Linked DNA regions of Homo sapiens. The protein of the gene in region 2 interacts with the protein of the main gene of each other region in a pairwise test. Each region holds a gene or a part of one and is shown on either strand. Other genes may lie near its edges.

Region 1 (8,771 bases), on a different chromosome or scaffold from region 2:
AGCCATTCCTCAACCTTCCTCTGTCTTCCATAGCATTGTTACTTCTGAAGAGAATAGACCACTTTTATGTTTTAAATGTGCCTTAATTTGGTTTTGTGTGATGTTTTCTCTTGATTATAAGCCTTAACAAATAATAGTGAAGCCGTAATCAGACTTCTAGCCTTTTTCTTTGCTGTTATTCATAGTACTTTGTAGTTTTCAGAGAGAGAGCTTGGTCACAGCAGTAGTTCCACAGCGACTCATTTAGCTACCTATATTTAGTTTTAACCACACCCAAGATATTCCTAGTTGTCTGAATTCTTGATTCAGATTTACTTAAAAATATGTAAGTATTTAATACTACTTTTTGAATCAGAATTGGGATATTGATCAAAGCGAGGAAAAAATGCCTCTTGTCAGGTAAAGTTAATGCATTTTCTTTTTTTGCATGTGTTATCAGAAGTTTTCAAAATTTCAGCTTAGAGACCTCTTCTAGGACCTAGATAATTATTTGGAAACTGCAAAACTGCACAAAATTTAAAAAAAATGAAAAGCTAAGAAGTTTTGTGTTGTGATTTGGGGTGGAGGAGTATTCATTTCAATCCTAATATAAGATTTGCTTATTTTTTATGAATATCTTGCTGTCTGTTACAGGAAGCTTATTAGATTTCCTTAAGGAAGGAGATGGAAAGTATTTGAAGCTTCCACAGCTGGTTGATATGGCTGCTCAGGTATCTGTATATATACATGTATCCATTTGAATTAAAAGTGTAAATTAAAATGTGGAATAATCTTACCAGAATATTATAGTATGTGTAGTGAAATGGTGGGATTTTATTTTTATTTTTTATTTTTTAGAGACAGCGTCTCATTCTGTCACCCAGGGTGGAATGCAGTGGTGCACTGATAGCTCCGTGCTTGAAGAGCCTTGAATTCTTGGGCTCTAGCAATCCTCTCGCCTCAGCCTCCTGGGTAGCTAGGACTGCAGGCACAGGCCACCATTCCCAGCTAATTTAAAAAATTATTTTTTTTGTAGACACAGGGATCTCTCTGTGTTGCTTAGGCTAGTCTCAAAGTCCTTGGCTCAAAGGATCCTCCCACCTCAGCCTCCCAAAGTATTGGGATTACCTGGCCAATAATGGAATTTTAGAACTGGCAGGAACGTCAGAGATAATCCAATGTGAGCTCTTAATGATACAGATTAATGAAGTATCAAAAGATGAGAGGTATCTAAAATTCACAAAACTTGTTAGTAACAGAACGAGTATTAGAACCAGCTATCTAACTCTTAGTCCAGTGGTGTCCTGTATCATACGGTTTCTTAGAAAATAGATGTTTCCAGGCCAGGTGCGGTGGCTCACGCTTGTAATCTGAGCACTTTGAGAGGCCGAGGTGGGTGGGTCACTTGAGGTCAGGAGTTCGAGACCAGCCTGGCCAACATGGTGAAACTCTGTCTCTACTAAAAATACTGAAAATTAGCCAGGCGTGGTGGCGGGCGCCTGTAATCCCAGCTACTCAGGAGGCTGAGGCAGGAGAATCGCTTGAACCCGGGAGGCGGAGGTTGGAGTGAGCCAAGATCTCGCCATTGCACTCCAGCCTGAGCAACAAGAGCGAGACTCCATCTCAAGAAAATAGATGTTTCCACAAATGTAAAGTCTATATGTATTTATATTTCAACAGATAATTTTAAGAAAATTAAAATGGATGAGGGCTGTTCCAAAGAAAATATTAGTAATCTAAAGTGTATGCTGAATTTTTTTTTTTTTTTTTTTTTTGAGATGGGAGTCTCGCTCTGTCACCCAGGCTGGAATGCAGTGGTGCAATCTCGGCTCACTGCAAGCTCCATCTCCCAGGTTCACACAATTCTCCCGCCTCAGCCTCCCGAGTAACTGGGACTACAGGCGCCCACCACCACCCCCAGCCAATCTTTTGTATTTTTAGTAGGGACGGGGTTTCACCGTGTTCGCCAGGATGGTCTTGATCTCCTGACCTCGTGATCTGCCCGCCTCGGCCTCCCAAAGTGCTGGGATTACAGGCGTGAGCCACTGCACCTGGCCTGAATTTGTTATTTACTATAGTCCAACACAAGAATTAAGATGGTATATATACAGTTTAAAATGGGACTTTTTTACTCTTCTGACTTTTTGTTTTAAATATATAGTGAAAACTGTTAAAAGTTTCTCTTCAGATATGTGGTAGGTATTTGAGAGGCCTTATTATTGGCTTTGGTTGACATGCTGGTTTTGGAATCTTACCTCCTAGCCTCCAAATGTCCACAGAATCTGACAATTCAGAAAAGCTTTATACTGAGAAACTATACATAGGCAACAGGCATATGCCACGCCAGTTCATGCTTCTGAGTTAGACACTCTATGGTAGGGGAGGTTGGCAATCCATTTTTGTTTTTTAAAAAAAAAAAAAAATTAGGTTTTGTGAGCCACATCCAATCTGTCATACTTTTTTCTTTTTACAACCCTTTAAAAATGTAAAAACCAGGCTGTGCGAGATGGCTCCTATAATCTCGCTTTGCGGGGCCTGGGCAACATAGTGAAACCCCATCTCTACAAAAAAATACAAACATTAGCTGGGTGTGGTGTCGCATGCCTAAGTCCCAGCTACTCACTAGGCTGAGGTGGGAAAATTGCTTGAGCCCAGAAGATAGAGATTGCAGTGAGCCACGATTGCACCACTGCACGCCAACCTGCGTGACAGAGTGAGACCCCGTCTCAGTCAATCAATCAAAATGTAAAAAACAGTTTTAGTTCTCTGGCTGTGCAAAAACAGGCTGCAGGCCACTTTTGGCCTACAAGCTGTAGTTTGGGAACCTATACCTTGTGGTTAATACCTTTATCACCATGTCATCTTAGGTTGTGCCTGATAGAGACCTTGATGAGCTTGTATCCAGAGGTACTAAATTACCTTGTGATTTACCTCTTCTCCTAACCACAGACACAAGAAGACATTAGGAGGGTTAATCTTGGTCTTCAGAGTAATGTTAGGTTTTATTTTTTTTGAGGCTGAGTCTCGCTCTGTTTCCCAGGCTGGAGTGCAGTGGCACAATCTTGGCTCACTGCAACCTTTGCCTCCTGGGTTCAAGTGATTTTCCTGCCTCAGCCTCCCAAGTAGCTGGGACTACAGGTATGTGCCACCACACCCAGCTAATGTTTGTATTTTTAATAGAGACAGGGTTTCACCGTGTTGGCCAGGCTGATCTCGAACTCATGACCTCAAATGATCCACCTGCCTCGGCCTCCCAAATTAATGGGATTATAGGTGTGGGCCACCGCACCCAGCCAGTGTTAGATTTTTGAAATCTGAATTTAGCCTGCATTTTTATTATGTTTTCTGGTTTTCCTGTTATCTTCTAGACTATACCCTGTTACCATCATCTCCTTCTAAAATAATATGATTTTCAGTGACACAATTTGATATTAACCATAATTGTCTTCTCTCTGCTTCCCTTTGTATCGTATGTCTTGTGTTTTTTGTTTTTCTCTTTCCAAGATTGCTGATGGTATGGCATATATTGAAAGAATGAACTATATTCACCGAGATCTTCGGGCTGCTAATATTCTTGTAGGAGAAAATCTTGTGTGCAAAATAGCAGACTTTGGTTTAGCAAGGTTAATTGAAGACAATGAATACACAGCAAGACAAGGTAAAATTACTTTTACATAAAAGCTTGTAATGTGTTGTGTGTTTTGCTTAACTCTCTTGACTATACAGGGTTTTCCAGAATAAGAATTGTTTTAGCTTCCCTCAGAAGAGTCATAGAGACATTGATTTCATTCATAAAATCATGTACTGCTGTGGCTTTCTGATAGTTATTTCCTCCAAGAAAGAACTTGACTAGGTATCCTTTGCATTATACATAGAGCAAGTAGTAGCCTCTTTACACTTCTTTTGACATGACAACAAATATATTTTAATTTCTTTCCTAGAAAGGCCAGAGGTTCTCAGTCAGAGGAGATATTGCCCTGTACCGCCACTCACCAGGGGACATCTGACAATGTCTACAGACTTTTTTGGTGGTTACAACCTGGGGGCTACTGCTTGACATCTAGTGGGTAGAGGCCAGGTATACTGCTGAACCTCCTACAGTGTACAGAAATGTGCAGGCAAACCCCCCCTTCCCCCCACAACAGAATTATCAGGCCCAAAATGGTAGCGGTGCTGAGATTGAGAAACCCTGCTTTAGACATAGTGCTTTCTTTCAACCTCCATACTTCTGTACAGTTACCTCCATCTGGAATGCCTTCCTATCTGTAATGTTTGTTGTTGTTGTTGTTTTTCGAGATAGGGTCTCCCTCTGTTGCTCAGGCTAGAGTATAGTGGCGTGATTTCAGCCCACTGCAGCCTTGACCTCCTGGGGCTCAGGTGATCCTCCCACCTCAGCCTCCTGAGTAGCTGGAACTACAGGTGCACACTACCACGCCTGACTAATTCTTTGTATTTTTTGTAGAGACGAAGTTTTGCCATGTTGCCCAAGCTGGTCTCGAACTTCTGGGCTCAAGCAGTCCTCCTGCCTTGGCTTCCCAAAGTGCTAAAATGGCAGGCGTGAGACACCATGCCCGGCCTGTAATCTTTACATGTGAAAATCCTAACCATTCTTTAGGGCCTAATTTAGCTGCCACTTTTTTTTTCAATAGTTTTTGGGAAACTAGTTCTTTAGTGGTGATTTCAGTGCACCCATCACCCAAGCATCTTGCACTGTACCCAATATGTAGGTTTTTTTGTTTGTTTTTTTGAGACGGAGTCTCACTCTGTTGCCCAGCCCAGGCTGGAGTGTAGCGGCACGATCTCGGCTCACTGCAACTTCCGCCTCCCAGATTCAAGCGATTCTCCTGCCCCAGCCTCCCGAGTAGCTGGGATTACAGGCTCGTACCACCACACCCAGCTAATTTTTGTATTTTCAGTAGAGACGGGGTTTCACCTCCAACATGTAGTCTTTTATCCACCCCCCAACCTTTCCCCCTTACTCCCCAAAGTCCATTATATTACTCTTATGCCTTTGTGTCCTCATAGCTTAGCCCCACTTTTAAGTGAGACCATACAATATTTGGTTTTCCATCCCTGAGTTACTTCACTTAGAATAATGGCCTCTAGCTCTAAGTTTCTGCAAAAGACATTATTTCATTCCTTTTTACGGCTGAGTAGTATACCATGGTGTATATATGCCACATTTTTTTTTATCCACTCATTGGTCAATGGTCATTTAGATTGGCTCCATATCTGCAATTGCGAATTGTGCTGCTATAAACATTTGTGGATGTATCTTTTTCATATAATGATTTTTTTTTTTTTGCTTTGAGACACAGTCTCAATCTGTTGCCCAGGCTGGAGTGCAGTGGTACAATCTCAGCTCACTGCAACCTCCACCTCCCAGGTTCAAATGATTCTCCTGCCTCAGCCTCCCCTGTAGCTGGGATTACAGGCACCTGCCACCAGGCCCGGCTAATTTTTGTATTTTAGTAGAGACACGGTTTCACCATGTTGGCCACGCTGGTCTCAAACTCCTGACCTCAGGTGATCCACACGCCTTGGCTTCCCAAAGCGCTGGGATTACAGGCGTGAGCCACCACACCTGGCTGATTTCATTTCCTTTGGGAAGATACCCAGTAGTGGGTTTGCTGGATTGAATGGTAGTTCTGCTTTTCGTTCTTTAAGGAGTTTCCATACTGTTTTCCATAGTGGTTGTACTAATTTACATTCCCACCATCAGTGGAAAAATGTTCCCTTTTCACCACATCCACACCAACATCTATTGTTTTTTTTTTTTACTTATTCATTATGGCCATTCTTACAGGAGTAAGGTAGTGTCTCACTGTAGTTTTAATTTGCATTTCCCTGATGATTAGTGATGTTGTATGTTGTAGTTGCTCCTGGTTTTTTTTGTTTTGTTTTGTTTTTGAGATGGAGTCTCACTCTGTCACCCAGGCTGGAGTGCAGTGGCGCGATCTTGGCTCACTGCAAGCTCTGCCTCCCGGGTTCTCGCCATTCTGCCTAAGCCTCCCGAGTAGCTGGGACTACAGGTGCCTGCCACCAAGCTCGGCTAATTTTTTTTTTTGTATTTTTAGTAGTGACGGGGTTTTACCGTATTAGCCAGGATGGTCTCAATCTCCTGACCTCATGATCCGCCCACCTCGGCCTCCCAAAGTGCTGGGAATACAGGCGTGAGCCACCGCGCCTGGCCAAGTTTTGCTTTTTTGCCCAGACTGGAGTGAAGTGGCATGATCTTGGCTCACTGCAACCTCTGCCCCCCAGGTTCAAGCAATTCTCCTGCCTCAGCCTCCCGAGTAGCTGGGATTACAGGCATGCACCACCACACCTGGCTAAGTTTTGTATTTTTGGTACAGACAGGGTTTCACCGTGTTGGCCAGGCTGGTCTTGAACTCCTGACCTTAGGTGATCTGCCCACCTCGGCCTCTCAAATTGCTGGGATTATAGGCGTGAGCCACTGTGCCCAACCACCTGCCACTTTTTAAATAAAACATTTTGTAATGGTGCCAAGGAAAATTGATCATCTGTTTGTCTAAATATCTAAAGAACTCTGTTTTAAAACACTATCTACAAACACATATAAATAACTTAAAGAATGTAAGACACCTATAATATTATTTCTGCAATAAGTTTATAAACTTCATGAAAGCCATGCTTTTTTTTTTTTTTTTTTTTTTTTTTTTGAGACGGAGTCTCACTCTGTTGCCCAGGCTGGAGTGCAGTGGCGCAATCTCAGCTCACTGCAAGCTCCGCCTCCTGGGTTCACACCATTCTCCTGCCTCAGCCTCCCGAGTAGCTGGGACTACAGGCTCCTGCCACCTCGCCCAGCTAATTTTTTGTATTTTTGGTAGAGACGGGGTTTCACCATGTTAGCCAGGATGGTCTCAATCTCCTGACCTCATGATCCACTCACCTCGGCCTCCCAAAATGCTGGGATTACAGGCTTGAGCCACCGCGCCCGGCCGAAAGCCATGCTTTTTAGGTTTCCATAGTGATTAGCATAATGCCCTCCACAAAAAAGATATACAGTAAGTATTTGAGTTAATTAACATGGACTTTTAAAAGTAGTACAATAAAATTTTCCAGAATGATATAAAAAGTAGGAAAACCCATAAACATTATAACTCAATAGAATATTCACTCATCAACCAATAGTTAACTACAGCTATTAGGTGCCAGACTGTACTTAAAAGTTACACATATTATAACATGTATCTTTGGCTTACTAGAGCTTCAACCTCTATTTTCTTAAATTGTTTTCTGTTCCCACAGCCAACTTATTTTTTATATCATCAGCTGTCTAATCAGGAAGAAATGTGATTTATTTCAATATGAATTTTAAAAATTAAAGAATTTTTATCCCATGTATCTTGTACATTTAAAGAATTGACACTGATGACTACAGTAGAGATATTGACAGAACATTAGCCCTGCATATGCTATGTTTACACAAATAGATTTTTAAAAAACAATTAAGCAAGATGGTCAACATTATTTTAGGTGCAAAATTTCCAATCAAATGGACAGCTCCTGAAGCTGCACTGTATGGTCGGTTTACAATAAAGTCTGATGTCTGGTCATTTGGAATTCTGCAAACAGAACTAGTAACAAAGGGCCGAGTGCCATATCCAGGTAAGCTTGCATTTTATAGCTCTTGGTTATCTCATGAGTGGCTTTATCAGGAGTTTATTAGGAACAGAATTGTAAGCGGGGAAAAGGCCTTTATTTCTTCTCATAGTCCCCCTGCCTCTCCCTCTCCCCACTCCTTCCCTTTACTGTGGCATTGGATGGGTAACTGTGGCATTGGACGGGTAAGTCAGTGAAAGCCACGATCCTTGACAGGGTGAGCACATGAGATAGGCCCCACATTCACCTCAGCTTTCTCAGGACATTTTCCAAAGGGGCCTCTTACTGTTCTCTCAGATAATAAACATATCTTAAATATCCTGGCTCATCCACCCTATACCCTAAATAACTGTTCTTTCCCAGTAGTGTGATTGGTGTTTTGTTTTTTTTTTTTTTTTTTTTTTAAACACAGTCTTGCTCTGTCACCCAGGCTGGAGTGCAGTGGTACAGTCTGGCTCACTGCAACCTGTCTCCCGGGTTCAAGCAATTCTCCTGCCTCAGCCTCCCAAGTAGCTGGGATTACAGGCACCCACCACCACACCCAGCTAATTTTTTGTATTTTTAGTAGAGATGGGGTTTTGCCATGTTGGCTAAGCTGGTCTCGAACTCCTGACCTCAGGTGATCCACCTGCCTAGGCCTCCCAAAGTGCTGGGATTACAGGCGTGAGCCACCGTGCCCATCATGGTATATTTTTTTAAATATGTACTTGCCTTGTTTTCTTCAGTAGATTATTTTGAGATTCTTTTCTTGTTTTATTTCTCTAACCTATTTATAAACCAGCACTTTAATAAATATATCTGCCATTAATAAAGAGGAAAAATGAAAGTGTTTCCCTTTCAAAATTAAGAGACTTTTTTTTTTTTTTTTTTTTTGAAATGGAGTCTCGCTCTGTCGCCCAGGCTGGAGTGCAGTGGCACGATCTCAGCTCACTGCAGCCTCCACCTCCCAGCTTCACGCCATTCTCCTGCCTCAGCCTCCCGAGTAGCTAGGACTATAGGCACCCGCCACCACGCCCAGCTAATTTTTTGTATTTTTAGTAGAGACGGGGTTTCACCGTGTTAACCAGGATGGTCTCGATCTCCTGACCTTGTGATCTGCCCGCCTCGGCCTCCCAGAATGCTGGGATTACAGGCGTGAGCCACCGTGCCTGGCCTCAAAATTAAGA
Region 2 (4,441 bases):
ACATTTTATCGAATTGCTGTTCACACTGGAGTATTATATATAAATATATATATTTGAGGCCCAAGGCCTGAAAAATATTAGTATACAACTTGGTATCTTAGTCTTACTATGTACTTTTTGAAAGTATTCCTCGCAGGAGAAAGAATTTAAAATACCCATTTTATTCATGCCTTTCTTTTTAAAGAATTCTCTATCCAGTTATACTGTAGTCTTTTTAGTGCTGATTTTTTAATTCCTGAATTTTTGCTGCTCATGACCAGTTTTAATACCACTGTGTTTTCCTTCTATTAAACCAGAAGAAGTAAACAGCATAATTGGCAACTCTTGAGCTTTTCTTGTGGCAGGCACCTTTTACCCTTGGTGCTCCAAATCCCCCATCTAGGAAAGAAAATTTTTTCAAGTCAAATAACATTGATCACATATTCCTTGAAATCATTTACCAACACTGTATGGAGCATTAGGATTTAAATATGAATTTGTCTTAAAGGCAATTCCTTTTTGCTTCTGTATTATCTGGAAAAGCATGAGAGAGGTGACACCTCAACAAACTGATCAGAGAAAATAAGCAGTTACTACCCTGATAGGCACCTTCCCAATCCTGTTGCTTTTGACCATTGTCTGTCCAACGGACACACCTCAAACAAACAAAACTACCAAATAGATGACAGATCAGAATAAAGGTGAGAGGTCTGGTCCCCATTGAAGGCTGCTACAGTCTTCAAAGAGGTGAAGGAGTTCATAAGAGAACAACAGTAGGAAAGTTGAGAGCCAAGGGTAGGAGAGTTGCCCAAAAGACTTCCCCTACTACTTTAGGGTACTGAAAACTCAAAGGATCAGCTACAGCTTTATCTAAGTATTTACTAAATGCTACATGAGGGTGTCCCTGTCCAGCTTTCTGGCACATGAGTCCTGTGTGGAGAGTTACCTCCTCTTCCAGGGACTGTGCTGTTGGGAACTTTGGGCAAGTCACTTACCTCTTTGTGCCTCAATTTCTGTATAATATTTCTAAGCTACCTCACTGAGGTGGTATGAAGATTCACTAATGTATGTAGCGTGTTTGTCAATCCTCCAGTGAAAAGCACTATCTAGATCACATTTTGGATCACATTAGCCAAATGCAGTAAATGGCCAAATTAGATGTGTGCTGAAGACAATCAGTCACTGGGTCTATATTAAACAGCAACCAGAGCAACAAATGGCAAACAATTTCTATTTTCAAGTTTCTTTGCATATTTTTTTGGTGCAAAACCATTTATAAACTTTTTTTTCTAACACTAGTGTCTACAGCAGCATTCAAAAAAATTCTGTTACCTTTTCTGTATTAGGATTTAAAGTCTATTTCTTATTGTATACCTGATTGAAGCTGTTCTTGGAGATGAATGTTTTAAATGTCTATATCCAAAAAATAAACATTTTGATGTAACTGTGGACTGTCTTTTTTTTTTTTCAATTTTCTAGTTATAATAGTTTTTTTATTCTAAGTGGCTCCGTGGAAATTATTTTTCAGAGATAAGGTGTCACTGTATATGCTGTGAATAAGCAGCTATATTATGTAGTAAGTAAACCTAGTTTGCTAAATGGTGCTAAGGACTGCTCAATTACAGTCCTGGCCTTCTTCACTATCAACTGGGACTTTTGACTATGAACACCTTGGGATAATGAACATTCCACTTAATTTGGGAGACTTGAGCTTTAGCCTCGTTAACATGAAATTATTCCAGCAGAATTCCTCTAAAAGATGTCACATTAAAAAGGCTTCCAATGGGTGTAGACCAAAAAAAATGAGAGCATACTTAGGGACACAAAACACATAATTATTTGGTTAGATCCACAGTAATGGGAAGTAAAGTTAAATACCAACAATGTTTATAAAAGGACCTGAGTTCAAGTTTTATAATCAATGGCCCCCTTGTTAATACAGCCATAGGATTTAATTATTTGCACTTATTCTCTATTCTAACAAAGCCAAAATCAGTAGACTGTCATATTGCTAAATATATGCTATATGGTTGATGTAAAATTAAACACACGATTAAAAAAAAATTAAGCTCTTTAATTATGTGCACACAGATTTTAGAAAAGGTAGCCTTTTGTATATAGATACCTTTACATTCTTTAGGCTGACTTTTAAATTGTCATCTTTTTTCAACTACAGTTTTTGTATATAGTAAACCAGAAGATGTGTATGGACCCTGTTATGGCCAAGCATCTCAAAGATGAAGAGAGAATTAATGATAGTTATATTTCACTCAAAATGCCAAAAAAAAAAATTCAACAAAGTAAAAATTTTAAAACTTGACTCTAACTAGTTCCTTTTTGTTTTACATTCTCAAACCATTGTCAAATATTCTAAATATCTCTGAGAATTTCTCTTTTAATGCTTCACTTGTATAATCTTAAAATCCTGACAGTCATACAATACAGCATGTAGTAGGTACCTTTTCTTGAGGCACATTCAAGTGTTTTGGCAAACAGTAAAAAGTATCTAAATGCCACAGGTTAAAATGTCAAGTTTTACTGAGTCACCAACTTCACCTCTTTTGATCTGCCTGTTCTCCAAGAACATCATTCTCCGGAAGATCCAAGTTCCTCTAGTTGTTTTCTTTGTGTTGTTTCCAGTTCTTCTAGTCTTTTGCGAAGTAGAGAGAGTTCCCTTTGATGTTGTTCCTCCTTAAAATGATGTAGAGAAAGCATAGCAAAAGAAACTATTAGAAAAACTGTTAGGTAGCAACCTTGGACTGCCTCTTTTATATATGCCTATAACATCTGGCAAGGAAATGCTGACCACTGTAGCAGTCTAAAAACAGTAGCATGGGCTAAACTACCATCTAGTTTTGCTTCTCTCCTGCCTCAGGCTCTAGCCTTAAGCAAAACCCGTAGTCTGTTCTTCTCTAGGTATAAAATTCACCAGGGAGTGAATTAGAAAATACTAATGCAGGGCCCAGGTATACTTACATGGTAACTTTCCAACAACACTGGTGTTTAACAGCAGTTTATTATAAACAAAGCACTTGGCCTGAGATTCAATTCAGTGATTAAAATCTTCTGTGCTTATGTTATAAAACATAATTACTTATTAATACTCCCATCTTCTGAAAAAGAATCAATCTGATTCCTTCAATACCTCAGGGGCTTGATACAATAGAAAGAGCCCGGGTTTTGGATTCAACAGGTTTAGGTTTGAAACTTTGTCACTTATTAGCTATGACCTTATGCAAGTCACTTCACTCTGAATCAGTTTCCTTATCTATGAATTAGGAATAGTAATATCTGCCCTCAAAGCATTTTTCGTTAGTATTAGACATTGCACGGAACATGCACAGTTCACTGCGTTAGTAAATTCTCAGTAGTAATTACTATTAACATTATGAATAAGCTACAAACTCTAGGTTACTCAATGACTCAATCAAGTTTCCTCTTTTCTATCGTCCAGTAAGAGATTTCACTCTCAGCACCAACACTAAAGGATCATGATTCAAACTGAATTCAGCAAATTTCTATGCTAAATGAAAGGGAAGAAGTTAAAAGTAGTTTTAAATGTTTATGCCATTTTTGTGGTGAATTTTGAGCACTGACCAAAGTTATAATTTGAGTTTTATCACCATATTTAAACATAAAAACCTACAAAAATGTACGACTTTTTTTTTCCCCCTAAAATAAATGCTCATACCTGCATATGAGGAGGAAATGGTAGTTCCATGCTTGGAACCATGGCTGATGACTGAAAGCTAACAGGATTGATAGATGCTGTTGGAGGCATGTTAGGAACCAAAATTAGACTTCGAAATTCATTATGTCTTCTCTGTATATCTTTTAGTCTTTTTTGAAGCCTTGTATAGTCTTCAAAAGGAACATTTTGTCTTAAAAAGAAAAAGAAATGTTTCTTTAACATGGTTATACCCTATTGAAGCACAGTATGATTCACAGAATATAATTTTAAACTGGAATTTCTAAATTATGAGATCTATATATAATATATAGATAAAAAATCTGTTTACCTAGAAAGATAAACAGAAACATGACATAACATCTTAATCATTAGCAATCATTAGCATTGCAGACTATCAACTCATTATAAAGTTTTATTTGCTAATTAAAGATCTAAAATCTTTTGATACTTTGGTACTCACTCCTACCCTCCTACTCACCCCCATTCATGAATCCTGAAACTAAAGGGAGACTCTAAACCAAAAGAGTGCCTTATCTTACAGAAAGAATCAAATAAAAATACAGTTCATCCCTCAGTATACACATGGGATTAGTTCCAGGACATCCCTCATATATCAAAGCCTGTGCATACAAGTCCTGCAGTCAGCCCTGCAGAACCCTCATAATGGAAAAGTTGGTTCTCTGAACTGGTGGGTTTCACATCCTGTGAATACTATATTTTCTATCCATGTTTGCCCGAATAAAAATCTGTATATAAGTAGACCCATGCAGT

Evidence for each region. The genes of interacting proteins can lie anywhere in the genome.
Region 1: the proteins of CEP83 (region 2) and YES1 interact in binary tests that used the Homo sapiens proteins (3 or more experiments, as listed by UniProt).

The regions. Positions count from the first base shown.
Region 1 is NC_000018.10:731,674-740,444, reverse strand, and holds part of YES1 (tyrosine-protein kinase Yes), read left to right. Parts: intron 1-633; coding exon 634-710; intron 711-3,483; coding exon 3,484-3,637; intron 3,638-7,479; coding exon 7,480-7,611; intron 7,612-8,771. UniProt on the Homo sapiens protein: Non-receptor protein tyrosine kinase that is involved in the regulation of cell growth and survival, apoptosis, cell-cell adhesion, cytoskeleton remodeling, and differentiation.
Region 2 is NC_000012.12:94,306,248-94,310,688, forward strand, and holds the end of CEP83 (centrosomal protein of 83 kDa), read right to left. Parts: intron 3,861-4,441; coding exon 3,671-3,860; intron 2,671-3,670; coding exon 2,566-2,670; 3' UTR 1,451-2,565; downstream 1-1,450. UniProt on the Homo sapiens protein: Component of the distal appendage region of the centriole involved in the initiation of primary cilium assembly.